4 separate regions of the Homo sapiens genome follow, and regions 1, 2 and 4 are each linked to region 3. Evidence: fine-mapped expression QTL. A gene starts in region 3. Each other region holds a variant in brackets. All regions are shown on one strand. Distances are between the middles of the regions. Region 1 overlaps COA1 (cytochrome c oxidase assembly factor 1). Region 2 overlaps STK17A (serine/threonine kinase 17a). Region 3 holds the start of COA1 (cytochrome c oxidase assembly factor 1). Region 4 overlaps BLVRA (biliverdin reductase A).

Evidence for each region. PIP is the estimated chance that this variant, and not a neighbour inherited with it, causes the effect. A credible set is the group of variants that fine-mapping cannot tell apart.
Region 1: its variant is the best candidate, but not a certain one, in a credible set for the expression of COA1 in whole blood (INTERVAL, PIP 0.88).
Region 2: its variant is the best candidate, but not a certain one, in a credible set for the expression of COA1 in vagina (GTEx, PIP 0.73).
Region 4: its variant is the best candidate, but not a certain one, in a credible set for the expression of COA1 in whole blood (INTERVAL, PIP 0.65).

What each region holds. Positions count from the first base shown.
Region 1 is chr7:43,704,960-43,713,069 of GRCh38, forward strand. All of the region lies in intron 1 of COA1 (cytochrome c oxidase assembly factor 1), which reads right to left. Among named protein-coding and RNA genes, the nearest start is that of COA1, 21 kb to the right of the region's middle. The variant G/A (reference allele first, on the strand shown) is at 3,410.
Region 2 is chr7:43,587,139-43,595,248 of GRCh38, forward strand. The region is part of intron 1 of STK17A (serine/threonine kinase 17a); the gene reads left to right. Among named protein-coding and RNA genes, the nearest start is that of STK17A, 8.1 kb to the left of the region's middle. The variant A/G (reference allele first, on the strand shown) is at 4,930.
Region 3 is chr7:43,726,435-43,734,544 of GRCh38, forward strand. It overlaps COA1 (cytochrome c oxidase assembly factor 1), which reads right to left and starts at 3,089. Exons shown (of 6, transcript NM_018224.4): 1 at 2,995-3,089. RefSeq lists enhancers at 2,375-3,104, 3,105-3,833, 3,200-3,399.
Region 4 is chr7:43,800,925-43,809,034 of GRCh38, forward strand. It overlaps BLVRA (biliverdin reductase A), which reads left to right. Exons shown (of 8, transcript NM_000712.4): 7 at 2,752-2,923; 8 at 6,053-6,418. The coding sequence ends at 6,311. Among named protein-coding and RNA genes, the nearest start is that of BLVRA, 46 kb to the left of the region's middle. The variant GA/G (reference allele first, on the strand shown) is at 3,517.

The DNA.
Region 1 (8,110 bases), 21 kb before region 3:
CTTTTTGCATGGGACTTCTTGCTTTTTATATTCTTTGATGCTCCTGAAAGTTTGACTAATATTTGTTTGGTTTAGTCAACTGGCTTCATTGTGGATGCTTTCAGGAGGCCAAGGCTCAACAGAGCACTCCTGGGCTACATGCTCTAATCCTTGTGGTGCTGGGACCAGGCCTGTGGCTTTATTTTCTGGCTCCTTGAGGTTAAGTACCTACTGCTCTGAAGGAGCTGAGATGTTCCCGGTCCACTGGCAACAACACTCCGATGGCAGCTGCCAGCAAAAGAACTCTGGTGGGGCAGCAATAGGCTCCCACGCACATGCATGCCTGCAGAGTGGCACGGGGAAGCTGTGGGCAAATGCACACTGGCAGGAGAAGGCTGCAGGTGGGCACGTGCCAGCAGGGGAAGGCTACCGGCAGGTGCACATTGGCAGGGGTCTGGGTCCATTTGCAAAAGCACTCCAATGGACAGATACGGTCTTATGGCAAAAAGCTATAGTGATGGCTGCTGGCAAGCTGAGGCTGTGCTGCAAGCAGGTACAGCCAGGCAGGGAGGGACCCTAACAGAGGCCAGCAACGGGCAGTTGGGGGAGGTCCTCAGATCAGACTGGTCCCATTCCACAAGCAAGCCAGCCCTCTATTGTCCAGGTCTGGCAGCCAACAAAGGCTAGAGCTGCCTAGAGGAGTATGGTGTTATGGATATCCACAGCCATGCTCCACTGCAACTGTTCCCACAACAAACCCTCTGGGCTCCATGCAGGCTAGAGTTCCATCTCTGTCAACTCTCCAGGAAGTTCTTCCTGCCAGCTCAGATGTTCATGAGAATCATGGGGTCTCCCACAGGTAGGCTCCCAGAGGTCCGCGGCAAGAGTGGGCCACTCCACATCAATTTCACTCACCCCATCCCTAGGAGCGACTCAGGGCCAGCGACAAACCGACAAACCGTGGTGCTTGGCAACCCTGTGCAGGGTTTCCAGCTTCCTCCCCTTTCAGCCTGGTATCTGCATCCTCCCTCTGTCCACTCTCAATGCCTTCTTTCCAAAGATCTGTTCAGAGTGTGCTGGCCTACTTGATGGCCTGGTCTCAGTGGGAGAGGCTCTTCCTAGCTGCCTCTAGATAGCCATCTTGCTATTTGTCCAAAATTATTGTTAAAGAATAAAGCATGAAAGCAATTTTCATAACTTGAATAAAAGTAAAGTTTTCATCTCCTACACTACTGGAAAAAAAAAATCTCTTTTACACAAATACTTAGAGCATTTTGATTCAAAAGCTAAAAAAGTATATATTAATATTAGAATCCAAGCCAGGCGCAGTGGCTCACGCCTGTAATCCCAGTACTTTGGGAGGCTGAGGCAGGCAGATCACTTGAGCTCAATTCAACACTAGCCTGAGGAACATGGCAAAACCCCATCTCTACAAAAAAATAAATAAATAAATACAAAAATTAACCAGACATGGTGGCACACACCTGTGGTCCCAGCTACTCAGGAGGCTGAGGTGGGAGAATCACTTGAGCCAGGAGGCGGAGGCTGCAGTGAGCCGAGATCATGGCACTGTACTCCAGCCTGGGTAACAAAGCAAGAACACATCTTAAAAAATAAAAAATAAAAAAATAAAAAAATAAAAAAACCCAGCCAGGTGCAGTGGCTCACACCTATAATCCCAGAACTTTAGGAGGGCAAGGTCAGCAGGTCACTTGAGCCCAGGAGTTTAAAATCAGCCTGGACAACATAGTGAAAGACTGTCTCCACAAAAAAATAGAAAAATTAGCTGGGCATGGTGGTGCATGCCTGAGGTCCCAGCTACTTGAGAGGCTGAGATGGGAGGATTGCTTGAGTCTGGGAGGCTGAGGCTGCAGTGAGCTGTGATAGGACCACTGCACTCCAGCCTGGGCAACAGAGAAAGACCTTGTCTCAAAAAAAAGAAAAAGAAAAAGCCAGACATGGTGGCTCACACCTGTAATCCCAGCACTTTGGGAGGCTGAGGTGGGCAGATCACTTGAGATCAGGAGTTCAAGACCAGCCTGGCCAACATGGAGATGCCTATCTTTTCTAAAAATACAAAAATTAGCCGGGCATGGTGGCAGGTGCCTGTAATCCCAGCTAGCTACTCAGGAGGCTGAGGCAGGAGAATTTCTTGAACCCAGGAGGCTGAGGTTGCAGGAGGCTGAAGTTGCAGTGAGCCAAGATCACGCCACTGCACTCCAGCCTGAGTGAATTTTCAAGGGCAAAGCCTTGCTGGCTAAAACTGTCTCTAGTAATCTTTAAAGAGTTCAGTCAAATTAATAAATACAACATCAAGACTGAAACAAATTAATGGGCAAAAGGCATATGCAAATACTTACAAATTAGATGGAGGAGGAGGAAGATCTCATATTGAATATTTACTGGGTATTAAAAACTGAGTGGTTCTTTTTTTTAAAAGTCTATCACACAAAGAAAAGTGCACAAAACATAAATGTTCAGCCCCATGAATTAAAACAAACCAAGCACCCATGTAACCACCAGAGTCCTAGAAATTGAGGACTGCCAGTAGCCCATTGGTTCCTTCCCACTTCTTTCCAATCATTAACCCCTCCCTCCTCTCCAAAGGTAACTATCATCTTGACTTCTAACATTCTAGTTCTGTACTGTCTGATTTTAAAATCTATTTAAGTGGAATCATATACAGTAGTATGGATTCTTTTGTGTGTGGGTTTTGTTCAACATCATGTTTTTAAGGTTCATCCATATTGTGTAAATTGAGTTTGTTCATTTTCATTACAGTACAGTAGTCCACGTTTGAAATGTATAATAATTTACTTACTATACTGTTGATGGAAATCTCCCCACACAACTATTTTGAGCTAGTACAAATAGTGGTGCTATAAACATTCTTATACACACTACTTCAACGCACACATGCCCACCATTTCTGTGGAAGTAAAATTACAAAGTCACAGAGCATGCATACATTCTGCTTCTACACTGCCAGGTTACCAAAGTGGTTATATCCAACAGTGTAAAAAAATTTCCTTGGGCATGGTGGCTCATGCCTATAATCCTAACACTTCCAGCCTGACCAACATGGTGAAACCCCGTCTCTACTAAAAATACAAAAATTAGCCAGGCATGGTGGCATGCGCCTGTAATCCCAGCTACTCAGGAGCCTGAGGCAGGAGAATTGCTTGAACCCCGGAGGCGGAGGTTGCGGTGAGCCAAGATCACACCACTGCACTTCAGCCTGGGCAACAGAGCAACACTCCGTCTCAAAAAAAAAGTCCTAACACTTTGGAACGCTGAGGCGGAGGGATCACTTGAATTCAAGACAAATCTGGGCAACATAGTGAGAACTCATCTCTACAAAAAATAAATAAAGTTAGCTGGGTGTGGTGGCACATGTCTGTAGGCCCAACTGCTCAGGAGGCTAAAGTGA[G/A]AGGATTGCTTGAGCCTGGGAGGTCAAGACTGCAGTGAGCCGAGATCGTACCACTGCACTCCAGTCTGGGTAACAAAGCAAGACCTTTTCTAAAAAAAAAAAAAAATTCCTTGCTCCATTGCTCCATATTCCCACAATCCCTCTGCATTATTAATCCTTCTATTTAGTATTCTGGCAGGTGTGTAACAGTTATATGCCATTATGATTTTAATCTGCATTTCTCTAATGATTTGTGCTCTTTGGCACCTTTTCTTATTTTTACTGGCCACTTGGATATTCTTTTTGGTGAAGTGCCTGTTCAAGTCTCTTACCCATTATTCTACTGGCTTGTCTTTTTCTCTCTTACCCATTATTCTATTGGCTTGTCTTTTTCTCTCTTATCTTTTATTACCATTATTCTACTGGCCTTTTTCTCACTGATTTGTAGTCCTTCCCATATCCTATACATAATCCCTTTGTCACAGAGTTGCAACCATCTTTTCCTACTCTTTGGCTTGCCTTTCACTCTCTTAAACATGATTTTTGATAAGCAGAAATTCTTGGTTTTAATAAATTCCAATATATCATTTTTTATGGTTAATGCTTTTTTGTGTCCATTTAAGAAAACTCTTCATACTGTAAGGTCACATAGATATTTTCCTATATTATCTCCTATAATCTTTTTTTTTTTTTTGAGACAGAGTCTCATTCTCTCTCCCAGTCTGGAGTGCAGTGGCACGATCTCAGCTCAGTGCAAGCTCCGCCTCCCAGGTTCACACCATTCTCCTGCCTCAGCCTACCGAGTAGCTGGGACTACAGGCGCCTGCCACCACACCTGGCTAATTTTTTGTATTTTTTTTAATAGAGACGGGGTTTCACCATGTTAGCCAGGATGGTCTCAATCTCCTGACCTCGTTATCCACCTGCCTCGGCCTCCCAAAGTGCTGGGATTACAGGTGTGAGCCACCATGCCCGGCCTATCTCCTATAATCTTTACTGTTTTGCCTTTCACAGGTAGATCTACAATCCACTGAGAATTCATTTGGGGTGTAATATGAGATACAGGTCTTGATTCACTTTGTTTTATTGTGTGTGTGTGTGTGTGTGTGTGTGTGTGTGTGTGTGTATACGCATGAACATGCATATATATAAAATGCTTCAGCACTATTTACTGAAATATATTGTCACCGTTCTGCACGTTATCTTTATAACAAATTAAGTATCTACATATTCACATGTCTATTTCTGTATTACTTATTCTGTCCCACCAATCTACTATACTAACCAAGACTGTTGTGTATCCCTGCACCAATATAACACTGTCTTTGTTAATCCAGTTTTATTTTTTTTAATTTCATATCTGATAAAACAAATTGTCCCACTTTATTCTTGAAGAGTATCTTGGCTCTTCTTGGCCTTCTGCACTGTCATATAAATTTATCTTTTAATGATGTGATAGCCCGTAACTAAATCTTATTAACACACTTAAAAAATATCATAAAGCCAGCCTAGAAGGGGTACCTAACTTGCCTGAGGGCCTAAGACTGCAAAACTTAGATTTGAACCTAGAAATGTCTCTGTGCAAAGTGCACACTTTTTCACTATTAACATCCTGCAAGGCTAAACTCACACATGAAAATGTTAAGCCTAAAAATAAAAATAAATGAAAGTAAAAATAACAATGAGCATTATTCCAACACCAACTCAAATTATTATGAGTTGCCAGATGCGGTGGCGCACACCTGTAATCCCAGCACTTTGGGAGGCTGAGGCAGGCGGATCACTAGAGGTCAGGAGTTTGAGACCAGCCTGGCCAACATGGTGAAACCCTGCCTCTACTAAAAATACAAAAATCAGCCAGGCATTGTGGCACATGCCTTAATCCCAGCTACTTGGGAGGCTGAGGCAGGAGAATCACTTGAACCTGGGAGGAGGAGGTTGCCATGAGCTGAGATCACACCACTGCATTCCAGCTTGGGTGAAAGAGCAAGACTCTGTCTCAAAAAAAAAAAAAAAAAAAAAAAAAAAATATATATATATATATATATTTTTAAGATATGTCCTAAACAGTTGATTTATTAATAGTTACTGCCTAAAGCCCAATGTTATAAAATATGGGTCATGTCTCATTCCCTTTCTAGAGCTACTAAGAAGATGAAATGGATAGCTCTTTGGTAGGTGAAGAATAGAAAAGATTTATGGATGATTCCCAGATGTCTGGCTTGAGTAAAGGATGTTTACAGAAGGAAAATAATATTTCTTTAACAACTAGGCAGTGCAGCAGGTGCTTGACATAAACTATCTCATTTTATTCTCCCAACTCCAATAGGTATTACTGGTGAACCAAATTACAAACAAACAATAGGATTCAGAAAGGTTAGGTAAACTTGTCCAAAGTGAAAAATAAATTACTGGATATCAGATCTTAACTGAAACCTCAGGTGCTAAGCCCTTTCCAAAACACCACAGTGCTGGTATCTGTGATATTTGTTTCACAACTGAGCTGAAAAACTAGATTTTCCACCAGGGAATATACAAGTGACACTAAAACAATAAGCAGCTGCCAGGGTTTCATTGTCATTAAATGTAGCAAGTCACATGGAAGCCTTTTGAGATAACTGCTCCAACCAGCAATCTTTAAGAACAATACTGTATTTGTTGATGGTTTTTTTTTTTCATTTTTGTAAAAAGATGTTGGATCCTTAATACATGTTAGAGCACATGTAATATCCCATCCCACATTTTTTACAATTTCAGTGCAGTGACAGCAGAAATCTTGTGGTTTGGTTCTTAACATATTCTGAGAGAAATTAAAATGAGGGTATTAAAGGCTCATGAAAAAATAAGGGTCACTAGCATACACCTGGGTGTAACTAATCAGAGACCAACAATTTCCATATATACATATATAAGAGAGCATGGTTAACTCAATGTAGGGAAATAATGTACCCACTTTATTATGTGCTCATCATACCACATCAGTAATACTAGATAACACAATAAGAACAACAGATCAACTACAGTAATATTCTTACCAAAGAGTAAGACTTACAATGCAGATTCCTGACCATTATTTAGAAAATCTCTGGCCAGAGCGAGACTCTGTCAAAAGAAAGAAAAAGAGAGAGAGAGAAAGAGAATCTCTGATCCATTGAGTCAAAAGGTGGGAATCTGCTTTTTAAAAAGTTTGTATTTTCACATGTATCAAATAGTCATGTGTCACCTAACAATCAGGATACATTCTAAGAAATGTATAGTTAGGCAATTTCATCATTGTGTGAACATCATAGCGTGTACTTACACAAACCTAGATGGTACAGCCTACAACACACCTAAGCTGTATGGTATGGCCTACTGCTCCTAGGCTATAAACAGGTACAGCATGTCACTGTACTGAATACTGTAGGCAATTATAACACAATGATAAGCATTTGTGTATCTAAACACAGAAAAGGTGCAGTACAAATATAGTACTATAATCTTATGGAACCAGTGTCATCTATGCAGTTCACTGCTGACTGAAATGTCACTAAGTGGCACATGACTGAACATATAATATATAAAATATATGTGTGAATACGAAGAGAAACTAATAACAATAAACTCCCAAGTGTCCACTACCCCTATTAAAACACGGACTTTTACCAAGACATTAAGACACCCTGATCCCATCCCCTTCCCTCCACCGAGGTAGCTATTATCCTGATTTAATCATTCCCTTGCTTTTCTTTTCTTCTTTTGTTTTTCTTCTATCCCTCCAGGGAAAAAGAAACTTTTTTTTTTGAGACAGAGTCTCACTCTGTCGCCCAGGCTGGAGTACAATGGCACAATCTCGGCTCACTGCAACCTCCACCTCCCGGGTTCAAGTGATTCTCCTGCCTCAGCCTCCAGAGTACCTGGGACTACAGGCGCCCACCACCATGCCCAGCTAATTTTTGTATTTTTGGTATAGACGGGGTTTTACCATGTTGGCCAGGCTGGTCTCCAACTCCTGACCTCAGGTAACCCACCTGCCTCGGCCCCACAAAGTGCTGGGATTACAGGTGTGAGCCACTACACTCATATTCCTCCAGAATTTTGAAGGCGGCATTGCTTCACTGCTTTCACACTTCCAGGGTGCTACATAGAAATCCAAAGTCATTCTGATTCCTGATCCTGTATATGTGATCTGGGTTTTTTTCACTCCAGAATCATCTCTTTACCACACGGTGTCCTGAAATTTCCTAATGATGGGCCCCAGTGTGGGTATATTTATTAGACTGAACACATGGCAGGCACATTCAATCTGCAAACTTCAATCTTCTACTGTTGGTCGTTTTCTTGAATTATTTTCACCTTTTCATTTCCCCTATTTTATCTGCAACTCAACTGTATAAACATTGAACCTCAGGAACAGTCAGCTAAGTGTCCTCTGTCTTTTTGCCTACTTCTTAGGAGATTTCCTGACCATTATCTTACAACCTTCCAAAGATTTTCATTTCCACTATCATGTTTTAAACTTTTTTCATTTTCTAGCTGGACTTTTTTTTTTATTGACACATTGTCATTACATATATTTGAGGGGTACAATTTGAGGTTTAAATACATATATATGGTTTTTTTGTCTTGTTTTCTTTTGCTATTTGAGACAGAGTCTCGTTCTGTCACCCAAGCTGGAGTGCAGTGGCGTGATCTCAGCTCACTGCAAACTTTGCCTCCTGGCTCAAGCAATTCTCCTGCCTC
Region 2 (8,110 bases), 140 kb before region 3:
TTTTTATTGTTTTTTGTTTTTTTTTTTTTTTTTTGAGATGGAGTCTCGCTCTGTCGCCCAGGCTAGAGTGCAGTGGCGCGATCTCAGCTCACCGCAAGACCCGCCTCCTGGGTTCACGCCATTCTCCTGCCTCAGCCTCCCGAGTAGCTGGGACTATAGGCGCCTGCCACCATGCCTGGCTAATTTTTTGTATTTTTAGTAGAGACAGGGGAAAGGATCTGTTAATGAGTTCTACATTGGAACAAACATGACCAAGCTTCAGTGTCATATAGTTAAGTTCCCACTGGGGCCTTAAAGTAAATTAGGGATGTCCTATCTCATTCTCCTCAGAGCAGTCAGGGGTAATAGGGACAAGAGAGGATTTTTATCAGAGAATAAGAGAATATTCAAACTGAAAGGGGACTCTGGGTGGGTATTTTGGGGACTGTGTGTCCTTACCTAGATTGATGGCTGTAGGTAATAGCTTCAGTTTTTGTATCTGACAAGAACTTAAGCGTGTGTCATAAGTTATCATTTTTTAACAAATAAAGACCTTTATTAAGTAATATCCATGCAGAAATTGCTTTGTTTTAACACAGATGTTATTTAAGATTTCTTGACAGCTAGTCATTAGTTTGAAGAATTTTATTTACAAACAGTTTTGGGTAATCTGATACTTTGGATAGATAAAAGAAAATTGGCCATATTTGTGGTTCAACAATAAAGTTACTTGGAAAGTATGGCTTCTGCTCTTAGGCAGGTACTTTAAGTCAGTCAGCTGTTTAATTTTGAAAAGTTCATGCTTCAAATGTTAAAATCTTAATTTAAAATACATGAATGTAAGAATTTGAATTTTAATCTTTTCATAAAACCATAGATGACACAATTTTATAAAATATGATTATTGAACCAAATGCATTAGAAAGCTAAGTAGCTATAGTCACCTCTTCAGGTAAGTAAGAAGTTAACTAGATTTCTTGAGAGAATTTACACATTATGTAGACTTAATAGCTCACCTCCAGAACTCCTGTTCTGATATTTTTTTTAAATTATTATCATTGGTTATATCATAGATCTGAAATTAATGCCAAAAACAATAAAAATAGCCACTGATTATTGATCATTTGCTGAATGCTACACACTTTAAAGATGTAATTTTGTATAGTCTTCACTGCCCTGTATGGTAAAGTGCCATTGATCTCATTTTACAGATGAGGAATCCCAGGTTCCAAAGGATTAATAAATTGCCCAGTATTACACACTTGTTAGCCAGAATTTAAAACCAAGTTTGACTTGTAAGGCCCTGCCTTTTCTTATCACGCATGCTAATGTCTTATTTGAATGGACTCACTGATTTTTACGCCTAGGGTCTTTTCCTTGGTCCTTTCAGCGATAAGGAAGACAAAATCCATTCTAGGTTTTTCCTGAATGGAACTTCTTTACGTTTAAGACATGGCTCACACCTGTAATCCCAGCACTTTAGGAGGCCAAGGTGGGCGGATCACTTGAGGTCAGAAGCTTGAGAGCAGCCTGGCCAACATGGTGAAACCTCATCTCTACTAAAATTACAAAATTAGCTGGGCACACACCTGTAGTCCCAGCTACTTGGGAGGCTGAGGCGGGAGAATTCCTTGAACTTGAGAGGTGGAGGTTGTGGTGAGCAGAGATAGTGCCACTGTACTCCAGCCTAGGTGACAGAGTGGGACTGTGTCTCAAAAAAAGAAAAAAGACATCACTCCAGTGTAATTAGGCAAATACTGTACTTATGTATCAAGTACATAAAAGCACTACCTTAGGCTCTGGAAGCTATTCCCAAATGTAACAGATCAATCACTGTCCCCTTTATAGGCAAGATGATATGCCACTGGAAGGTCTTATGGGGGAAATAACATTTCAGTTGGGCTGTAAAGAATGGATGGAATTTCAGTAGTAGTTGCCATTGTCAATAAAACAGCAAGTCAGAGCAGTAGAAAAATTCAGTGAAGAGAGAATGGCAAGTAGTCCAGTATATTAAATGTCATGAGGTTAAGTTGCCATAAAACTTTTATTTAACAAAATAATAAGCAGTATATATACTAGGTGTGCTGATTATATTTGCACACCTGCCATGTGCAGGGCACTATGGAGATAAAAAGATGAAGAATAAGTGAGGTCCCTGAAACTCACAGTCCAGCTGGGAGACATAGTACAACAAGTTGTAATATATAAGATTGACATAAATATAATAAAGGTATAAACAAAGCACTTTAACCTAGAATAAAACAGGACCTTGGACATTATTTTACTTCCCCTTTGTACTGCTCAAATTAGCATGTGCATTTTCTGATGTTTACCTGAATGTTATATATTCTATTATCTCTTCACCTTTGCTTATAATCCAACACTTGAATTTGTATTTGGAATCCCTTCAATAAATGGGATTCTCTTTACCAAAAAAGGCAGCTCAACCTTCTGTCCAACTATAACTCCTACCACATTACACAGTACTATAACTGGTACCACATTTACACAGTACCTATATTAAAAATCTAAAAGTCATCCATGACTTTCACCTTTCCTTTCTCCTCTCATCTCTGCGTACAACTCACACCTGCCAGGGAGTGCTAATAAATCTTGACTTTGAGTGTCTTTTAAACATATTCTCTCTTCCCAGTCCCTACGCTGGTACTTGAGTGCAGACCTACTGCTTTGAATTATTTTATTGGCCTCTCTGTTTCTAGTTATCACTGGCAATCCACTCTTCACAACACTATTAGAATTACCTGTTTTGTTTTATTTTATTTTATAATTTTATTTTAATTTTATTTAATTTTAATTTTAATTTTATTTTATTTTATTTTATTTTATTTTATTTGAGACAGGGTCTCATTCTGTTGCCCAGGCTAGAGTACAGTGGCATGATCTCGGCAGCCTAGATGTCCCAGGCTCAACTGATCCTCCCATCCCAGCATCTCAAGTGCCAGGACCACAGGTGCACACAACCACGCCTGTCTAATTTTTGTATTTTTTGTAGTGACAAGATTTCGCCACGTTGCCCAGGCTGGTCTCGAACTCCTGGGCTCAAGCAATCCGCCTACCTCAGCCTCCGAAAGTGCTGGTATTACAGGCATGAGCCACCGTGCCCAACCAGAATTATCTTTTCTAAACAATTATTTTCAGTATTCTAATAGGTTCCAGTTTTAAGCCTGATGAAGCCCAAACTCCTTAGCAAACATACCTACCTAAAGATACTCACCCTGTCTCCCTAAGCAGTGTTTTTAGGCACTGATAATGCAAAGGACTTAGGGAGCTCGGACTGGTGGGTCTCAATCAAATGTCACCTCCTCTTGTTATAATTGTTTATGTATCTTACCTTTCCCACCTCTCTGGAATATGTTTTCAGTGAGTAGTTCTGAAATGTATTCATTTCTGATATTCATCCCAAAATATTTAATGAAAACCTAAGTTCTCAGTTTTGTACCTATTAGCAAAATATAGATGTTTTTGAAATGAAAAAATATACCTGAAAATTATGGCAACTGTTTATTCCAGGAAGAAGTTTGGCTTTTGAGTCAACAAAAAAAGTAGATGTGCAACAAACATCTTATGCCCTTTGGACCTCATCAGCCCCAAGAGAGCTGTATATAACCATGGCCCATAATGTCAGGGAAACATCATTTTTAAAATGTTTTGTAGAGGACTCAATAACCTAAAGTTAAAGGTTGAGGTACAGTCACAATTTTTACCATAAAGTCATGGTAAAATATGCATGTTGGAGCCCTTTTGAGGTATGGAATTTAGGGAACTCTGTCAATGTAATTCTGAGCATATACACTGGGACTTTGCAGCTTGAATGCTGAATCTCCTGTTTTCTTTATACAATGTGGCTGTGTAGAACAGCTCCAAGAAATCCGTTATTATCTTCTCTGACTCCTCCTTGAGTGGTTTGAAGGGTCCCCCTCCCATTGCACCAGTCATTTAGAGATGAAGGCATGCATGCTTCCTCAAATCATTGCGACCTGCTGTCATAATGTCAGTTTCAGTGGTATGTGGTATTAGAATGATGGAAGAGTTTTATTCAGCATAGGATAGAGCAGGGGTCAGCAAACTACAGCCAGCCACCTATTTTTGAAAGCCTTGCAAGCTGTTTTTACATTTTTTATGTTTTACATTTTTTAATAGTTAAAAAAATTAGAATAAGAGTAATATTTAATAACATGAAAAGCTTATGAAATTAAATTTCAGTGTAAAAGGTTCATTGGAAGCCAAACATACCCATTCATTTACCTTTCTTGTATGGCTGCTTTTGTTCTGCAACAGTGGACTTGAGTCATTGCTGCAGAGACCCTCTGGTCCACAAAGCCAAAAATATTTACCATCTTGCTTGCCCTTCACAGAAAAACTTGCTGACCCTAGTATAGTACAGGATATGTTGGAAAGAAAAGAATAAATCTAGAACTGTGAGGAATGTTTCCAGAAAAACAAAGGTGGTGTCAGTGTAGTCATTGATATGAAAGGAGAGCCGTGGGAACTGCATTCTAGCACCTAAAGGAATGGGTGAGGAGCATGAGCAACAGATGAATAAGTATGGGGAAGAGGCCCCAGAATTTAGCAATGGCTGTTCTGTAACAGGGCTCCCACAGTTCACAGGTTAGCAATGTGTGTGAGTCCGTGTTTAATTTGCCCTGTTAAATTCTAACTTCTAGGTTTTGATCTTTCATTCTAGACTACTGACATAATTTTGAGTTCCAATTCTGTTTGCTGAATTAGCTGTCTTTCCATTTGGTCTTTAAAAATAGACTTTCAGGCTATGTAATAAGTAGTTTTTTACTTACTGCACAGTACTTTATTGCTTTGAATGTCAGGTGTGGCAACAGTAAACATTTGTGTGTGTGATATGTGTTTGAGGGCCGTTCTACTGAGTCATTTCTAATTTACCAGGAACATGTTTGCTGCCAATTATATGTTGAG[A/G]CTTCATTTCAGACGAATTTTTTACAAATTAAACTTTCTCTTCTCTTGAAACTTCAGACATGTAGGTATGAAAATATCAAATTAATAACAATTGTTTTCTGTCTTAAAAGAATTCAGAGATCATTGGGAACCTTTTAAAACTTGATGGAGATGTTAGCCTAATGATTTTGTGGGATAAAATGAAAGGTATTAATTACTCTTTGAGGAATTCATTTATAGTTACTCTCTCCCATATCTGTAGAAGTCTTTCATATTTCTGTGAACAAAAGAACTTTTATCTGAATAAGGGTGCTGCTAGGTAGGTTGTTACCAAATTGAACAGCCATAGGGCTATGCTTAAGGATTTGTCATTCCACATTTATATTACTAATGATAAAAACATGGAGGACATGAAAATTATATTTGCAGTTAACAATAGCTGGGAAGGAAGAATTACTCAAAATTATGTCAGTAGTCTAGAATGCTAGATCAAAGCCTAGAAGTTAGAATTTAACAGGGCAGGCCAGGCATGGTGGCTCATGCCTACAATCCCAGCATTTTGGGAGGCCGAGGTGGGTGGATCACTTGAGGCCAGGAGTTCGAGACCAGCCTGGCAAACATGACGAAACCCCATCTGTACTAAAAAAAAAAAAAAAAAAAAATCAAAAAATTAGCTGGGCATGATGGTATGTGCTTGTAATTCCAGCTATTCAGGAGGCTGAGGCATGAGAATTGCTTGAACCCGAGAAGCGGAGGTTGCAGTGAGCCGAGATCGTGCCACTGCACTCCAGCCTGGGTGACAGAACGAGACTGTGTCTCAAAAACAACAACAAAAAAGAATTTAACAGGGCAATTAAAGCCTTGCACTTAATTTTTTAGAAAGCTTTTTAAAAAAATAGATTCAGGGGTACAAGTGCATTTGTGTCACATGGATATATTGGGTCATGGTGAAGTCTGGGCTTTTAGTGTGCTCATCACCTAAATAGCGTACATTGTACCCAATAGGTAGTATTTAATTCCTCACCCCCTTCCCACTCTCTTACTGTTTGGTCTGTTTTTCCACTCTATGCCTGTGTATCCATTTAGTTCCCACTTAAAAGTGAAAACAGGCAGTTTTTTACTTCCTGCTTGAGTCATCTCACTTAGGATAATGACATCCAGTTCCATCCATGTTACTGCACAAGACATCATTTTTATGGCTGTGTAGTAGTCCATGATACATATACACACCATATTTTTAGTCCAGTCATCCACTGATGGACACTTAGGTTGGTATCTTTGCTATTATGAATAGGGCTGTGATTAACATATGAGTGCAGGTGTCTTTTTCATACAATAATTTCTTTTCCTTTGGGCAGATACCCTGTAATGGGATAGCCAAGTCAAATGGTAGTTCTTTGAGAAATCTCTAAACTACTTTCCATAGTGGCTGAACTAATTTACATTTCCACCAGCAGTGTATAAGCGTTCCCTTTTCTTTGTATGTTCGCCAACATTTGTTGTTTTTTAACTTTTTACTAATAGCCATTCCAACTGCTGTAAAGCAGTACCTCATTGTGATTTTAATTTGCATTTCTCTGATGATTAGTGATGTTGAACATTTTTTAATGTGTTTGTTTGCTGCTCTTTTGAAAAAATGTCTGTTCATATAAAAAAAAAAAACAATGAGGTTGTTTTTTTTTCTCGTTTTTTGAGTTCCTTGTAGATTCTGGATATCATCCCTTTGTTGGAGGCATAGTTTGCAAATATTTTTTCCCATTCTGTAGGTTGTCTGTTTATGCTGTTGATTATTCCAAATTTTTTAGCAATCATTTTTAAAATATAGTATGAGGATACTGACTTGATAAAAATTCAAGGTGGAAAAAAATCTAGGTAGTTTATCAGCCCAATTTGAAATATGAAAACATGTCAAGTTTTTTAACAATCAATCTTAGGTTGTATTGTTCCAGGAGCAACAAAAATAATAATGATGTAATGCTTTGATCGATTATACCTGGATTAGTTGCTTCAGATTTGGTTGGCACATTTTCTGCTGAGCCATAATAGGGAGTCAACCTTATGGGGAGGTGGGCATGGTGGCATGTGCCTGTAATCCCAGCTATACAGGAGGCTGAGGTGGGAGGATCACTTGAGCCCGGAAGTCCAAGGCTGCATTGAGCTATGATGGTGCCACTGCACTCCAGCCTGGGCAACAGAGTGAGACCCTGTCTCTTAAAGGAAAAAAAAAAAACCCATGGGGATGGGGATTGATTGCAAATTGGGAAAGGGAAGAGGGAGTGGCAGCTAACAGATGGTGTTTGCTGTGTTCAGTATCTGATAGACTGCCATGTGGAAAAGAGAGTGAGGTCTGGTCTGTACTGCTCAGCAGAGGACCCTGACTGTAACCCTTCAACTGAAGTCAGGTTTAGGCTTGTAATGAAGACCTTATTAAGATAATATGTACCCAGTAGTGGAAAAGATTACCTCACAGTTTGAAATAAGACATTGGCATTTGGTGTTAGGTAAAATACTGTATGATTTCTAAGTTGTCTTTCAACCTAAGGATTCAGTGGATGTTTACGGGTGATGACTATCACAGCTTAATGATGTTTGTGTGATTAGTAATATTTATTGAGCACTTACTGTGTGGCAAGTACCATGCTAAGCAATTGAAATATATTATTCTTTAATTCTTAGAACCCTGTGAAGTAGATGCCATTTGTGTCCCTATTATACAGATTAGAAAAATGAGACTTAGGGCATGGAGGCTCATGCCTTTAATCCTAGCAGGATCACTTGAGGCCAGGAGTTCAATACTAGCCTGAGCAACATAGAGAGACCCAGTCTCTTAAAAAAAAAAAAAAAGAAAGAAAGAAAAGAAAAGAAAAATGAAACTAAAAGAGGTTAAATAAACCACCTAAGGTTACTGTCAAGTGCCACTTATAGGGTTCAAGCCCACATAGGTTTAATTCCAGAGCTCATACTTTTAATCAGTATGCTATACTGAGTCCCTGGTTTACCCACTTATTAGTGTAATGACAAATAGTAATGTATCAATATAACACTTTGTTGTATCTGTCTTTATGAGAAAATACATTTCTAGCTGACGCTCTAGTTAAAATGATAAATGAGTGAGATCCTTACCTTTAGAAAGTGATAGTGCTCTTTAGAGTCAATTAGTGCAGTGAAATTCATCATATTAGGGATTCTGGTGACCAATTTC
Region 3 (8,110 bases):
AAATATAAAACAAAGTTAACTAAATAGATTGAAAATATCTGCCACATATCTAACAGTCAATGGCTTAAATCCCTACACAAAGAACTCCTAAAAATCAATAAAGACAAAACTCCATACGGAATGGCAAATTATAAAGTTTTTCCTTGCTTCATTTTTCAAGTCTTAAAATGCTCCTCACGGGTTCTTTCACAGCATTTTTCCTGGGCCTGGCCTCCCACGTAGTTGTTGGAAAACCATCACTCTCTAAACCACAGCCACATACCCATAAGGAGGTCTCCAGGGCTACAAAAAATTAATCTCATGTGCTTTTCATTTAAAAGAACGGTAGCATAATCTAAAAGACTATCACATATCTGATAAATGACTTGTATCTAGAATATATAAAGAACTCTTGCAACTCAATTACAAAAAAGAACCTAATTTAAAAATGGGCAGAGGATCTGAGTACACATTTCTCCAAAGAAGATAAATAAATGGGCAATAAGCACTTGAAAAGATGCTCAACATCATTAGCCATCAGGGAAATACGATTTGAAACCATAATATTTTCAAAAAGTTAGGAGATTTTTAATGGTCGCAACACAAAGAAAAGATGAACGTTTCAGGTGGTGGACATACTAATTACCTGATTTGATCACTACACATTGTATACATTTATCAAAATATCACTCTGTAGTCCCTAAATATGTACAATTATTACATGTCAACGAAAAAGAATGAAAACACAATGACACACACTTCACACCCACTGGAATGGCTAGAATCAGAAAGACAGATAATGACAAGTGTTGGCAAGGAGTGAGAAATCAAAACCCTAATACACTACTGGTGCGAATGTTAAAAAGATGCACACTGATGCTTTGGAAAACAGTCTGACCATTTCTTAAAATGTTAAACAGAGCTACCATATGACCCAGCCATTTCACTCCTAGGCACATACGCAAGAGAAATGAAAACATGATGTCCACACAAAAACTTGTAGGTGAATGTTCACAGCAGCATTACACATAATGGCCAAAAGGTGGAAACAATCCAAACGTCCACTAACTAATGGAAAATAAATCGTGGTAATACCCATAAAAGATTAACCAGCAATAAAAAAAAGTACTGACACATGCTATTAAATACAACACAGATGAACATGAATGTTAAGTAAAAGAAGCCAGTTGAAAAAGACCACATGCTGTATGATTTCACTCACATGAATAATCCAGAATAGTCAAATATACAGTCAGTCAATTCATAGTTGCTTAGGGCTTAGAATGGGGAGTGGGGATGGGGAAGTCAGGTGAGCCTGCTGAATAAGTACAGGGTTTCCTTTTGGAGTGATGAAAATGTTCAATTGTTCCAATATGGCTCTCACAAACTGAATGCAGCATATTAAACATGAACAAAAGAATACAAGAATAACTTATTGGAGTCTGTCTGAAATAGAAAATTAAACCAACTAATGAAGGTGAAGAAGATTACAGCATATTTTATGATGATGGTTGTACAACTTTGTGAATGTACTAATGTACTAATTACTTTTAGGTTTTCTTTCTTTTTTTTTTTTTTTGAGATGGAGTCTAGCTCTCTCGCCCAGGCTGGAGTGCAGTGGCGCAATCTCGGCTCACTGCAAGCTCCACCTCCCGGGTTCACACCATCCTCCTGCCTCAGCCTCCCAAGTAGCTGGGACTACAGGCTCCCGCCACCACGCCCGGCTAATTTTTTGTATTTTTAGTGGAGACGGGGTTTCACCGTGTTAGCCAGGACGGTCTTGATCTCCTGACCTCGTGATCCACCCGCCTCGGCCTCCCAAAGTGCTGGGATTACAGGCGTGAGGCACCGCTACGTTTTAAATGGTGAACTCTACGGTAGGTGAACTATGTGTCAGGAAGCTGTTTTATTTTTTTAAAGGACTGAAGACTTTTGTTTTGTGTTTTGTTTTGTTTTCATTTTATCCCGTTTTTAAAACAGTGCCTAGCAATATTATGAATTCAATCGATTTTGGCTAAATGCTAGAACAAAAATTAAAACTTGAGTAAACCATATAAAACTTTGCCATATCTAAAGTTATTAAATTACCGTAGACTGGCATGGTGGGAGCATAATATGAGTGTACCTGCAGGTGTGTTTTCCATGAAAGTAGCAAAGACTGAAAAACTCAGCAGAATCAAGACCCTGTAGGCCCTTGAAGTTAGGCTAAGAAATGTGTATTATCCTGAAAGCAACGGGAAGGCCAGGAAGATTCTGAGGACAGAAATAACACAATCTGATATGCGTTTTAAACGTGCAGGTGTAAGCGGAGAGTTGCTACTTCTATCCAAACGTGAGCCACCTCAGAAATAAAGCAATAGCCCTCCGGGGAGAATGGGGAGGAATCAGGGGAAGACCGGAGAAACAGGTTATCAAATTATCAGAATCTCCATAGATTTTTTTAAATTACACAGCATCCACCCCCAAACACACATACAGACTGATAGGCACTGATATATACATAAATACATCCAATGTCCCCTACACAGAAAATCACTTTTGCAGTCAGCCCCTGTTGGGAGGGTTTTTCTGTTATTCAAGTGTGGTGGGGACAAAAAGTATTATAACCACTAAACCAGGTAATTCTTTCCTACAATAATTTGGGCAGCGTACTCCTCAGGGTGTTGAAATTTAGCACTACCAACAAAAGTGCCCAGTCCCAACTCTTCGAGAGGACCCTAACTCTTTACAGTGTGCTGTTGGGGATGGTCAGCAAAAACTGCAGGACAAGGTCAAGGTTAGCTCGACACAGCCTCCTAACTCCGAGCGGACGGAGCCACTGAAGGTTACCAGGTGCCAAAGAAGCTGCGCAGGGAGGCCGCGACCCGGCGCCGGCGCGAACCTCCGCGATGTGACCCGTGAGGGAACTCTCCAAGAAGCAGCGCACCCCGCGCGCAAAGGCGGCCCCCCGAATTGCAGGAACAAACGCTTCTTGCTGGGGGGAAGACGGAGACTCTTATACCGCGGGAGACTAACCTGTGAGCAACAGAAGCACCACGCTACAAAGAGCATGACGAGTTCTTCCAGGCTTGGGAAAGCACGGGTAAATGCCCGCGGTCCTGCGCGCCAGCGGGGAGCAGTAGAGACTTCCGGCGTCGGCTGCTCGCAGGGCTAGAGCGTCGAACCGGGACAACCGGAGGCTTCAGCTCACCTCGGATTGTAAATGCTAACACGGGTCCTCCGGCCGGCTGATCCAGAACTTAGGTCGCCGGGACGTGTGGCTTCTGCTTCTCAGACGCTCGGACTCGCGCCGGGAAGGGTTTCGCCTCCCCTGGTCCCCGCTTTTTTTTTTTTTTTCTGCGTCCGGTTATTGCAAATGCATTCAGTCCAGTAGCACTAGCCCAGGAAATATAAGCCACCGGCTCACGTTGCTCCTCACAGGTATGCGGCGCTTCCGCTGGCCTCCAAGGACACGAAGCCCCGGGCCGTCTGGCCCCCCACTCTAGCACTGAAATTCCTGCCGCCCCGTTCAGCTGACAAATTTGGCAGCACTAAATTTTATTTTATTCGACAAATTAAGTACCCAGTTAACACCAGGGAGTAACGGGGTAAGAAAATTTCAGAAGGCTGGTGGATAATAATAGCATTTACCTCATAAATTTGTTATGAGGATGTGAAGCACTTAGAGTAGTGTCTGGCAGTTTGTAGGCGCTCAGTAACTGTTAGCTGTTATTATTTTTATATTGATTATTCCATAGTCACCACTATTATCACCTTAATGTCAAGCTTGAAATCCAGTATCTTTCCTCTGCGAAGCCATCACTCCAAGACTAATTAACTTTAGACTGGGGCATTCTTCTTTAAACTCTTGCTCACACATCCCTATCAGAAAAAATATATATATATTTACATGTGTCATGTATGGCATTAATATATTATGCATGCTATAAAACTCACAAGACATCAAACTTTTGATGAGGTAAAAACAATTTTTAAACTTTTTTAAAAACTTCTAACAGAAGTTCTTTTCTTCCTCCACAACAATTAGGTTGCCAAACATACATTCTATCACTCTGGAATCCACTAGCTAAATGAGCACATTATCAAAGCAACCTACCGCTGAATTCTGACTTCCCAGAATGTTTCTTTTCCAAAGAATTAATAGAAACTAATCAGATTGTGAAGTGCTCGGCCATAAGGACTATTTAAATGGTTCTTAGAGAAAAAGAAGAAATAAAATAGGCATCCACTGAGTAATATTCATTGATGCAACATTGATTATTGACTTATTACATTTTCAAAGAGATTGAGGTTATAATACCTTACACCAAGCTTAATATTTCAAAGAATAAATCAACTAATAAAAAGCTTATGAGGTTTGGTATATGTGCATTTCATACAACGTTCATGAAAATGAACCCGAGATCAATTAGCTCCCGTTCTGTACCAGAAAGAGAAATATGTTTACTTTGTAAGTAATAAAACATTAAATAGGCTTTTCTGACCATTTGCTTGAAAACTCAGAACTTAACATTTCTATCACTGGACTTAAATCTGCTAAAGTTTTCGTCTAAATTTTACATTAAAAACAAAACTCTATAGTGAATAATGTTACCTATCCAATATTCATTTTCCTCTAACTCCTTTGTACCAAAATCCTTATTTTATTCAGATAGCTGCCCTGTTCCCAGAATCAAAATGATACTGATTAAACCAGTCATCACACAGAATTTTTTTGTCGTCTAAATTTTACATTAAAAACAAAACTCTATAGTGAATAATGTTACCTATCCAATATTCATTTTCCTCTAACTCCTTTGTACCAAAATCCTTATTTTATTCAGATAGCTGCCCTGTTCCCAGAATCAAAATGATACTGATTAAACCAGTCTTCACACAGAATTTTTTTGGAAATAGTTGCTAATCAAGGAACGAGTATATGACCCAGGTTGGCGCAATCTGACTGAAGGAAAGGACCTCTATTTCATGCTCAGGAGAAAGTTTCTGATATACTGTCCTCTTGACGTCGAAACATCTATCCCACACTGTCATTAGTAGCCATCTTGCCCATCACAAGGAATAAAACTGATGGACCAATGCTGAGGACAACTGAACAAGTTATAAAACAATGTCCTTGGTGACATCATTCCAAACCTGGAGCTCACCCTGTATCTGAATGCCTTGTAGGAATGTCTAATAAGTTTCCTTATTGTTTTTGTTTTCTGTTTTTCTGAGACTGAGTCTCACTCTGTCGCCCAGGCAGGAATGCAGTGGCATGATCTCAGCTCACTGCAACCTCTGCCTCCCGGGTTCAAGCAATTCTCCTGCTTCAGCCTCCCAAGTAGCTGTAACTACAGGCATGCACTGCCACGCCTGGCTAATTTTTGTATTTTTAGTAGAGAAGGGGTTTCACCATGTTGGCCAGGCTTCTCTTGAACTCCTGACCTCAGTGATCCACCCACCTTGGCCTCCCAGAGTGCTGGGATCCTTACTGTTTTCTGATAGAGATGCCATAAAGATTAAATGGGTTAAAATAGTGCTGGTCATATTGTAAGTATTTTAAGTGCTTAATAAATTTTAGTTATTATTAACTCACCTTAAGTCAGGGATTCTGTTTCTTATAGCCAAAATTACCCATCAAAATACACATTCTACCTCTCTTTTTCTATATATTTAAAGAAAGGGTCTGTTTTGATACTTTTAAACTAAGGAGCCAGGGAAGGGGTAGGAGGTGAAGAGAGGAGGGGCTGACTATAATGCTGTATGAGGGCTACTGTTAAGTGGTTAAATGGCTGCTTTGAGATTCACTCAAGAGCAGCAGGATCCTATAACTATCAAATCTGAATGAGGTTACTACACATCGTAGTTGTATGTATACATGAAAGTATCATTTCCTGCATATTAATATTGTGATCCACTGCCTTACTAAGTTGCTTTATTGTTTGGAGTTCATTCTGGTAGAATTTCTAAGATTGCAATCTTATCATTGAAATAGTTTTACCTACTTCTTTCCAAGTTTTATACCTCTACTTTCTCATATCTAATTGTTTTGGCTAGTATCTCCAGTAAAATATTTAATAATAATAATGACAGTAGACTTTTATGTCTTATTCCTATCTTTAATGAGATATCTTTAGAATTTTCCCATTAAGCATGATGCTGGTTTTAAGGACTGAAGTAGACATCTTTTATCATGTTAAGGAACTATCCACCTATTGAGAGAAAGAAGAAAATTTTGGCATAAGAGCTTTGAGAAAACAAAGCATTGAGCGTGCCATAATGTCCTGTCATAAAAATAAGTAAAAGTTAGACAGTATTTACCTCAAAGACACTGAGAAAATTAACATTAGCTAGGTTGGTATGAATGTCCTTTCTTGCTTATCTTACTACCAGCATGAAATTCAGTCCTGCCTAGTTTGTTTACAAGAAATTCACCTGTGATATCCTGATTTTTAACCCTGAAAAAGTTATTTATCTCTTACAATATGTCCTGTTTAATGTAAAGTTAATGCTTGCTCTACATGTTTTTTGTTTTTTGCTTTTGTGTTTGCTTTTACATGTACTCCAAGCACATGCTCTACATGTTTGTTATAGGAAATAATGTGCACCTCCTATAATTTTGTTATAGGAAATTGTAGCTGTTCAAATATGCTGATTGCAAAAAATAAAGGACATTTTATAATAATTGGGTTAGATCATCAAGAAGATATAACAGTCTTAAATTTGTATGAATCTGGCCAGGCGCAGTGGCTCACGCCTGTAATCCCAGCACTGTGGGAGGCTAAGGCAGGCGGATCACGAGGTCAGGAGTTCGAGACCAGTGTGACCAACATAGTGAAACCCCATCTCTACTAAAAATACAAAAATTGGCCAGGCGTCGTGGTGCGCATCTGTAATCCCATCTACTCAGGAGGCTGAGGCAGTAGAATCGCTTGAACCTGGGAGGCAGAGGTTGCAGTGAGCCGAGATCGTGCCACTGCACTCCAGCCTGGGCAACAGAGCGAGACTCCGTCTCAAAATAAAAAAAATTGTTTGGAACTAATAGCAGAGCTTCAATAAATGTGAAGCAAAGACTGACAGGACAATTCAAAAAATTGGAAATTGTAGGCTGGGTGCGGTGGTTCACACCTGTAGTCCCAGCACTTTGAGAGGCCAAGGTGGACGGATCGCGAGGTCAGGAGTTCAAGACCAGCCTGACCAACAGGGTGAAACCCTGTCTCTTCTAAAAATACAAAAATCGGCCTGGCATGATGGCGTGCACCTGTAATCCCAGCTACTCAGGAGGCTGAGGCAGGAGAATTGCTTGAACCCAGGAGGTAGAGGTTGCAGTGAGCCGAGATTGCAGCACTGCACTCCAGCCTGGGTGACAGAGTGAGACTCCATCTAAAAAAAAGAAGAAAAAAGAAAAGAAAAATTGAAAATTGTAGTGGAGATTTTAACATTCATCTCTCAGCAATTAATAGAAAAACTAGACCAAAAAATCAGTAAGTGCATAAAAAACTGGAGCAACACTATTAACCAACTTGACCTGTTTAATATTTATAGAACACTCCATAAATAGCTAAATGCACCTTTTAAGTGTGTAGAATATTTTTATGCCAGTTCATAAACATTGATAAACTTAAATACATTGAAATTGTATAAAGTTTTTTGTCTTACCATAATTATAAATTAGTAACAGATATCTGGAAAACACAAATATTTTGAAATTAAGTAACACACTTCTTTTGAAATTAAGTATACATTTTGACTCATGGGTCAAAGAAGTAATGGTAAAGGAAACAGGCGTATTTTGAAGTGAATAAAAATAAAAATATATATCAAAAGGCATTGAATGCAGTTAAAGTAGTGCTTTAGAGAGGAAAATTATAGCATTGCATTCTTAATATAAGGAATAAAAATATAAGAAAAGAAAAAGTATAAGTTAAATTATTTTAGCTTCCACTTTAAGAAATTGGGGGGAAAATTAAAAATAATAGAAAATGAAATAATAAAGATAATTTTGGAAATCAATTAAGTAAAAGAGCTAGTTCTTTTTTCAGTTTATTTATTTTTGAGATGAAGTCTTGCTATGTTTCCTAGGCTGGTCACAAACTTCTGGGCTCAAGCAATCCTCCCACCTCAGTCTTTGGAGTAGCTGGGGATTACAGGC
Region 4 (8,110 bases), 74 kb after region 3:
CTAGCAAGTTACAAGGACATTGGCAGCAACCACAGTATTTATTTATTTATTTATAATAAATAATAAATATTTACTTATTCTGTTCTTACTCTGTTGCCCAGGTCTTACTCTGTTGCCCAGGCTGGAGTGCAGTGGTGCAATCATAGCTCACTGTAGCCTCAACCTCCCAGGCTCAAGCAGTCCTCCCACCTCAGCCTTCCAAGTAGCTGGAAACACAGATGTGCGCCACAATACCCAGCTAATTTTAAAATTTGTGTAAACAGTGTCTCCCTATGTTGCCCAGCCTCATCTCAAACTCCTGGGCTCAAGTGATCCACCTGTCTTGGCCTCCAAAGTGCTGGGATTACAGGCATGAGCCACCGTGCCCAGCTGACCACAGTATCTGATCTGTATTTGTAGCTGTTTACTTGATGTTGGTCACTCTTTGAGCAGCTCCGTTAGCAATAGGAAATGGGCATGCAGGAAGCTCCTGCTCTTGTGGCCACTTTTGGATGGGCTCCTTCTCTGGCCGTATCGTTGGGCACCTGGGCCACCATTCCTGAGGGCTTTCATTACAGAAAGGAGACCCTGACATGGCCTGGCATTTTTGCACGGTAAAGCCACTGATACATAGTAGAACCTCATTTCAAAATCTGTCTTCATCCTTGAAAATGGTAATATAATGAGAGTACAAACCATTAATTTGTACAAGAAACTGTGTTAAGTTAAGTAAGTTAAGTACAAGTAACTGTGATGTGCATTAATCCATATGACAATCCTATAAAGTGGTATTCACTACCCCCATTATACAGATAAACTGAAGTTCAGAGGCATGAGTGGCTTCACAGAGGTAACGTAGCGGTCATGAGACAGAGCTGGATTGGAGCTCAGCTCTCTAAGTGGCTGGAACTGTTGTGGGTGGCTGCTTAGTATTCTGTCCAAAGAACTAGGCTGGGCATAGTGGCTCACGCCTGTAATTCCAGCACTTGGGGAAGCTGAGGCTGGTGGATCACCTGAGGTCAGGAGTTTGAGACCAGTCTGGCCAACATGGTGAAACACCGTCTCTACTAAAAAAAAAAAATACAAAAATTAGTCGGGCATGGTGGCACGCACCTGTAATTTCAGCTACTTGAAAGGCTGAGGCAAGAAAATCGCTTTAACCCAGGAGGCAGAGGTTGTAGTGAGCCGAGATCGCACCACTGCACAGCCTAGGTGACAACGAGACTCTGTCTCAAAAACAAACAAACAAACAAACAAAAAAGAACTAGAGCAGACAGTAACCAGCCCTGGGGAAGTCTTTTTGTTTTGTAAGTTTGATACTTAGGCCCCAGTGATTTCAAACCATATTGTCTATGAAAATTCTAATTTTTGTTTGGTTTTATATATAACTTATTACTTTTTAAGAATATACTCATTGTTATTAGTCATTGTTTTAAGTGAATATCAAGGTCATAAGAAATGTTTTGTTTATAATGTAATGTAACAGATATGAAGTCTTTTAAACTTAGGTTATGTTTAAGATTTTGGCTGGAGGCAGACGGGAGCAGTATCTTGACCAAATGGATTTCTCACACCAATACTCTTTTTTATGTTTATATATATATATTTTTTTGATATAGGGTATCACTCTGTCACCCAGGCTGGAATGCAGTGGTACAATTATGGCTCACTGTAACCTCGAACTCCTCAGGCCCAGATGATCCTCCCACCTTAGCTTCCTGAGTAGCTGGGGCTGCAGGTGTGCACCACGACACCCGCCTAATTTTGTGTGTTTTTTTGTAGAGACAGAGTCTTGCTATGTTGCCTAGGCTGGTCTTGAACTCCTGGGCGCAAGCAGTCTGCCAGCCTTGGCCTCCCGAAGTGCTGGTATTATAGGCATGAGCTACTGTACGTGGCCTTTTTAGGCTTACTGCAACCTCTGCCTCCCGGGCTAAAGTGATTCTCCTGCCTCAGCCTCCCAAGTAGCTGGGGTTACAGGCACCCGTCACTATGCCCGGGTAATTTTTGTATTTTTTTTTACTAGAGACGGGGTTTTGCCATGTTGGCCAGGCTAGTCTCGAACTCAAGTGATCCACCCACCTTGGCCTCCCAAAGTGCTGGGACTACAGGCGTGAGCCACCACGCCTGGCCCCAATACTCTTTTGAGTGTACTTTTTTGTTCACAAGATTAGGAAGACTAAGAAAACATTTAACATTGTATCAATTTTCTTGATATTGAAATAGCTCAAAGGTATTACCATTTTCTCCATAGCTATTATAATACCTTCATACCTTATTGCCACTTACACATCAGGTAGTTATAAGAATACAGGCTTGCAGGGCTAAAATACTTTGATTCTTCTACTTTTACCAGACTACTTTAAATCACTAAAGAGGATATATATATATGTATATGTAGGTATGTGTTGTGTGTGTGTGTGTGTGTATGTATATCTACATATGTGTACATAGATGTATATATTAGAAGCCTGAAACTTTTTTATTATCCTGTTTGGCTGGATTGACTGCTGTTTCCAGTAGAATGTTTTACTAAAACTCAATTTAATAAACAGGAAAAGACAGAGATGCTTTTATGATAGAGTTGAAGTTCAGCCACCTGAGTTTTCATCAGTATCATTAATCACGTTGCCTGCCTACCACATAAGGCAAGGTCCCATTGTACTGATCACTCGGCCACATCTTTTCACACCCCCGCCACCCCCACCCCCCTGTCCTGCTTTCCACTTGGCATTCCTGCTTCCCAGTTCCCACAGCATTTGTGATTTCCCACAGCTGGCCCGTTGGAAGAAGAGCGGTTTGGCTTCCCTGCATTCAGCGGCATCTCTCGCCTGACCTGGCTGGTCTCCCTCTTTGGGGAGCTTTCTCTTGTGTCTGCCACTTTGGAAGAGCGAAAGGAAGATCAGTATATGAAAATGACAGTGTGTCTGGAGACAGAGAAGAAAAGGTAAGTCATGAGAAGCCATGAGGAGGAGGAAATTTAAGGACATCCTAGTACATTTGCAGGTATGATCCAAAGGGAGCCCCGAGGGGCTAGACCCTCACTCCCAGCTCCAGAAGGGCTGTCTGCTTCTGCAGATGGAGTGCTGAGATTGCACTTGTGTTGCCTCATCTCATCCTCTCAGCAGCCCTGTGAGGTAAAGAAGACAAACATAATCCCATCTGCCAGTCAGTAGACAGAGGCTTACAGAATGCCAGCAGGTTGCCTAAGTCATGCAAGTCATTCATAGCAGATTAGTAGTGGAAATTACATTACCTTGGCTGGGCGTGGTGGCTCAGGCCTATAATCCCAGCACTTGGGGAGGCCAAGGGTGGTGGATCACCTGAGGTCAGGAGTTTGAGACCAGCCTGGCTAACATGGTGAAACCCTGTCTCTACTAAAAATGCAAAAATTAGCCGGTGTGGCGGTGCATGCCTGCAGTCCCAGCTCCTTGGCAGGCTGAGGCAGGAGAATTGCTTGAACCTGGGAGGCAGAGGTTGCAGTGAGCTGAGATCAGGCCACTGCATTTCAGCCTGGGCAACAGAGCGAGACTCCTTCTT[GA/G]AAAAAAAGAAAAGAAAAAGAAATTATGTTAACTCTGTGACCTGATTTTTTTCCTGTGTTTTCTTATGAAAGTTTTCGGGCATATTGTGAAGTTGAAAGAATTTTTAAGTAAACACCCATCCACCTACTCCCTAGACCCTGCCATTAACACTGTACATGTTCCCCGCAGGGCCACACATTCACCCCTCAGTGCAGCCAGAGTGTGAGGGTCTGTGTTTCAGCTTTAGCATCCCATCACCCTGTCACACTGTTCCCAAAACATTCTGACTTATTTCTCATACCAGGTCTTTTTTAACAAAAGCACATTCATAATTTTCCTCCCAAAGCACCTGGGCTCTGTAAATTATTTAGAACAGTAAGGGTTTTAGAGTGTTTCTGGATGCCTTTGCAGAGAGGTGGGTCTCCTGGTAGTAAAAGAAGCAGACACTGGGTATTTTAAAAAGAAAAAAGAATTTGAGTTCCTGAATGAAGCCTGATCTAGTCCATTTTGAGGAGTTTCTTCTTCGCTAGGAAAAGGCAGAGAGGCCTGGCAGATGAAAGCAAAGCACATGGAACTTGGCAGTGCTCCCTATGGAGTGACCAACAGTGGTGGCCCGGGCTCTGGTGTGGCCATGTGAGTGTTAGGATTGCAGCCGTGGTCAGACCTATACACAGACAGTTGTAGCACCCTGTAATTAGAGGTAAAGATACTGTAGGGTGCTGTAGGAGCACAGGGAAGGGGAACCTGGACTAGGTCAGCTCATGGTTCTGATGGGAGGCGGTGCCTTGTTTGGTCTTGAAGTTGAGTAGAAGTCAATGAGGAAGCAAGATGTTGGGGAGGCAGAGGCTGACTCTCTCTCTCTTTTTTTTTTTTTTTTATGAGACAAAGTCTTGCTCTGTCACCCAGGCTGGAGTGCGGTGGTGTGATCTCAGCTCACTGCAACCTCCATCTCCCGGGTTCAAGTGATTGTCCTGCCTCAGCCTCCCGAGTAGCTGGGATTATAGGCGCCTGCCACCACGCCCGGCTCATTTTTGTATTGTTAGTAGAGACAAGGTTTCACCATGTTGGTCAGGATGGTCTTGAACTCCTGACCTCAAGTGATCTGCTCACCTTGGCCTCTCAAAATGCTGAGATTACACGCATGAGCCACTGCACCCAGCCCTGGCTCTCATTTTTGCACAGGAGAGGCAAGCATCAGATGAGGGATTGGGACAGAGAGCAGTTAATATAATATAATAGTAACTTCTTAAAATCATAGTACTTTCCGTGTCCCAAATTGCATTTTTAAATTTTTTTATCTATTTATTTATTTATTTTGAGACCGGGTTATGAGACTGGCTGATTTTCGTATTTTTGGGTAAGATGGGTTTTTGCTATACTGTCTAGGCCGGTCTCAAATTCCTGGGCTCAAGCGATCCACCCACATCAGCCTCCACGCCTGGCCACAAACTGCATTTTTATCTCACAATGTCACAGCAAGATAGGTAAAGCTGTATACTTATTACCATTACTTATTTTTACTAGTGAGGAAATTGAGGTACAAGAAAGATCTTGACATTCTGCATTCCCTCAAATCCCAAGATTCCATATTATTTAAAAGGACATGAGAGGCCGGGCACAATGGCTCACGCCTGTAATCCCAGCACTTTGGGAGGCTAAGGCAGTTGGATCACCTGAAGTTGAGAGTTCAAGACCAGCTTGGCCAACATGGTGAAACCTTGTCTCTACTAAAAATACAAAAATTAGCCAGGCGTGGTGGCAGGTGCCTGTAATCCCAGGTACTGGGGAGCCTGAGGCAGGAGAATCGTTTGAACCTGGAGGCAGAGGTTGCAGTGAGCCGAGATTGCACCACTGCACTCCAGCCTGGGCAACAAGAGCAAACATCTCAAAAAAAAGACATGAGAAATTTTCTTAGGCAGACTACGTAGAATACCTCAAGTTTATTTTTATTCAGTGCCAAAATAAAAGTTAATCTTTGTTGCCATCTCCCAGAACATTTGCTAGACTGTACTATGAGCTTTTAAAACTAGTCATGGGAGGCCAGGTGCAGTGGCTCACGCCTGTAATCCCAGCAGTTTGGGAGGCCAAGGCAGGTGGGTCTCTTGAGGTCAGGAATTCAAGACTAGCCTGGCTGACATGGCAAAACCCCATTTCTACTAAAAATATTTTTTTAAAAAGTAGCCAGGCATGGTGGCAGGCGCCTGTAATCCCAGCTACTTGGGAGGCTGAGGCAGGAAAATTGCTTGAACCCAGAAGGCAGAGGTTGCAGTGGGTCGAGATTGCACCACTGCACTCCAGCCTGGGTGACAGAGCAAGGCTCCATCCCAGAAAAAAAAAAGTCACTGAATGAATTCCCCTGCCTGATGGCAAAATTAAATTAAAGACTGTTTGGCTGTGAGGTTGACACAGTCACCCACAGCCTCTGGGAGGCTGGTGGCTGCAAGGAGGATGGGTGCCTGACAAGGACATGTTACCAGGCGGTCTGGTGCCAGCAAGCACCCACTTGTGCTCTTGTGTAATCTCTAACATGATTCTTTTGTCTTTTGTCTTTGCAGTCCACTGTCATGGATTGAAGAAAAAGGACCTGGTCTAAAACGAAACAGATATTTAAGCTTCCATTTCAAGTCTGGGTCCTTGGAGAATGTGCCAAATGTAGGAGTGAATAAGAACATATTTCTGAAAGATCAAAATATATTTGTCCAGAAACTCTTGGGCCAGTTCTCTGAGAAGGAACTGGCTGCTGAAAAGAAACGCATCCTGCACTGCCTGGGGCTTGCAGAAGAAATCCAGAAATATTGCTGTTCAAGGAAGTAAGAGGAGGAGGTGATGTAGCACTTCCAAGATGGCACCAGCATTTGGTTCTTCTCAAGAGTTGACCATTATCTCTATTCTTAAAATTAAACATGTTGGGGAAACAAGAATCTTATTGTTATGAGCTATGTTGGGATATTTGGGGTTAGGGGCTATGCAGTGGGGACAAGGCGAGAATGAGCGTTGGTTGAGCTGAGCTAAATGCTTTGTATGTCTGATTTCACTTACTCCTCCTAACAGCCCTATGAGATGAGTACTAGCAGGCCTCTTTTTTTTTTTTTTTTTTTTTTGAGAGTCTCACTGTGTCACCCAGGATGGAGTGTAGTGGCACCATCTCGGTTCACTGCAGCTTCCACCTCCTGGGTTCAATCAGTTATCCTGCCTCAGTCTCCCAAGGAGCTGAGGATTACAGGCGCGTGCCTAATCCTGGCTAATTTTTGTAGTTTTAGTAGAGATGAGGTTTCGCCACGTTAGCCAGCCTGGTCTCGCTCGAACTCCCAACCTCAGGTAATCCACCTGCCTCGGCCTCCCAAAGTGCTGGGATTAGAGGCATGAGCCACCATGCCTGGCACCAGGTCTCTTTTCATTGTATACTAGAAAATGTTGTTTGAACAGAACCCTCCGAGATGATAGAGTCACCGCCCTTCTGCTCTCGTGTTCTCAGCTGCCCTATCTACCCTGCAGGTTGCTGCTGCTGCTGGAGCCCACGCAGGTCATGTGCCACTGTGGCATTTCCTAAACACTCCTGCCTCTGAAGGTGGCACCCCATGCCCCAGTCACAATTCTTTCAGAGTGTCACAGAAGGAAAGAATCCACATGTATTCCTCAGCAGTCTGTCCCTCTGTCCAATTTGAAGAAAAAAAAAGCCCTTAATCCCGCTGTACTAATGCTCCTAAGTGTTGAGGGGTCCTTCAGGAGGGCCTTGTGTCTCCAGGCAAGAGTGACCACAGAGGTGCCCTTTGCCCCTCAGCCCCTCTCCCTGTGGCAGCAGTGACCTGCCTGTCTGGTGAAGCTGGAAAAGGGACTAAACACATGACACCCAGCCACCTTCTCCCTCTGAACCGACATCCTTAGGATGCACCCAAGCTTGTCCACGTGGCAGGTGACTAAAGCAGACTCTTCCTCTGCAAGTAGGTGACCTGCAGCTGTGATGAAGAATTGAGTTACCCTAAGACAGGGCAGTTACCCTAAGACAGAGCCTAAGACAGTTACCCTAAGACAGAGCCTAAGAGTTACCCTAAGAGTTTAAGAGCCTAAGACAGAGTTACCCTAAGGTGGAGCCTAAGAGTTATCCTAAGACAGAGTTACCCTGCAGGGAGCCAAAGGCCCGCGGGACGTGACCAACTCAGCATTCCGCTGGAGGCTATATGATCAAACAGCGAACTGTTTATCATGAATGCAGGATGTGGGCAAACTCACACTGCCTTGCCACCAAAATGTTTGCTGAGGGACATCATGCCCTGGCGCCGGGCTCCTGGAAGTTATCTATTGAGAAATCTAGCGCCTATTGTTCACAAGCCCGCTGTGAACCAAACGGCTGACTGACAATTACCCGACAACCATCCTCCCACTTTCTTGCTGTCTCTTTCACCTAATAAATACAGAGGGCTGTGTAAAGCTCACGGCCCTTGTCCACTAGAGGCAAGATGCCCCTTGACCTCTTCTTCCAAATATACTCTTTTGTGTCTTGTCTTTTATTCCCACATTCGCCCCCCTTTGTTCAGTCCCCCGAGGTCCATGCAGGTTACAAGTGGCACCCCAAACAGCAACAGGATCGGGTGCTCTGCATAGTGGCATCCGAA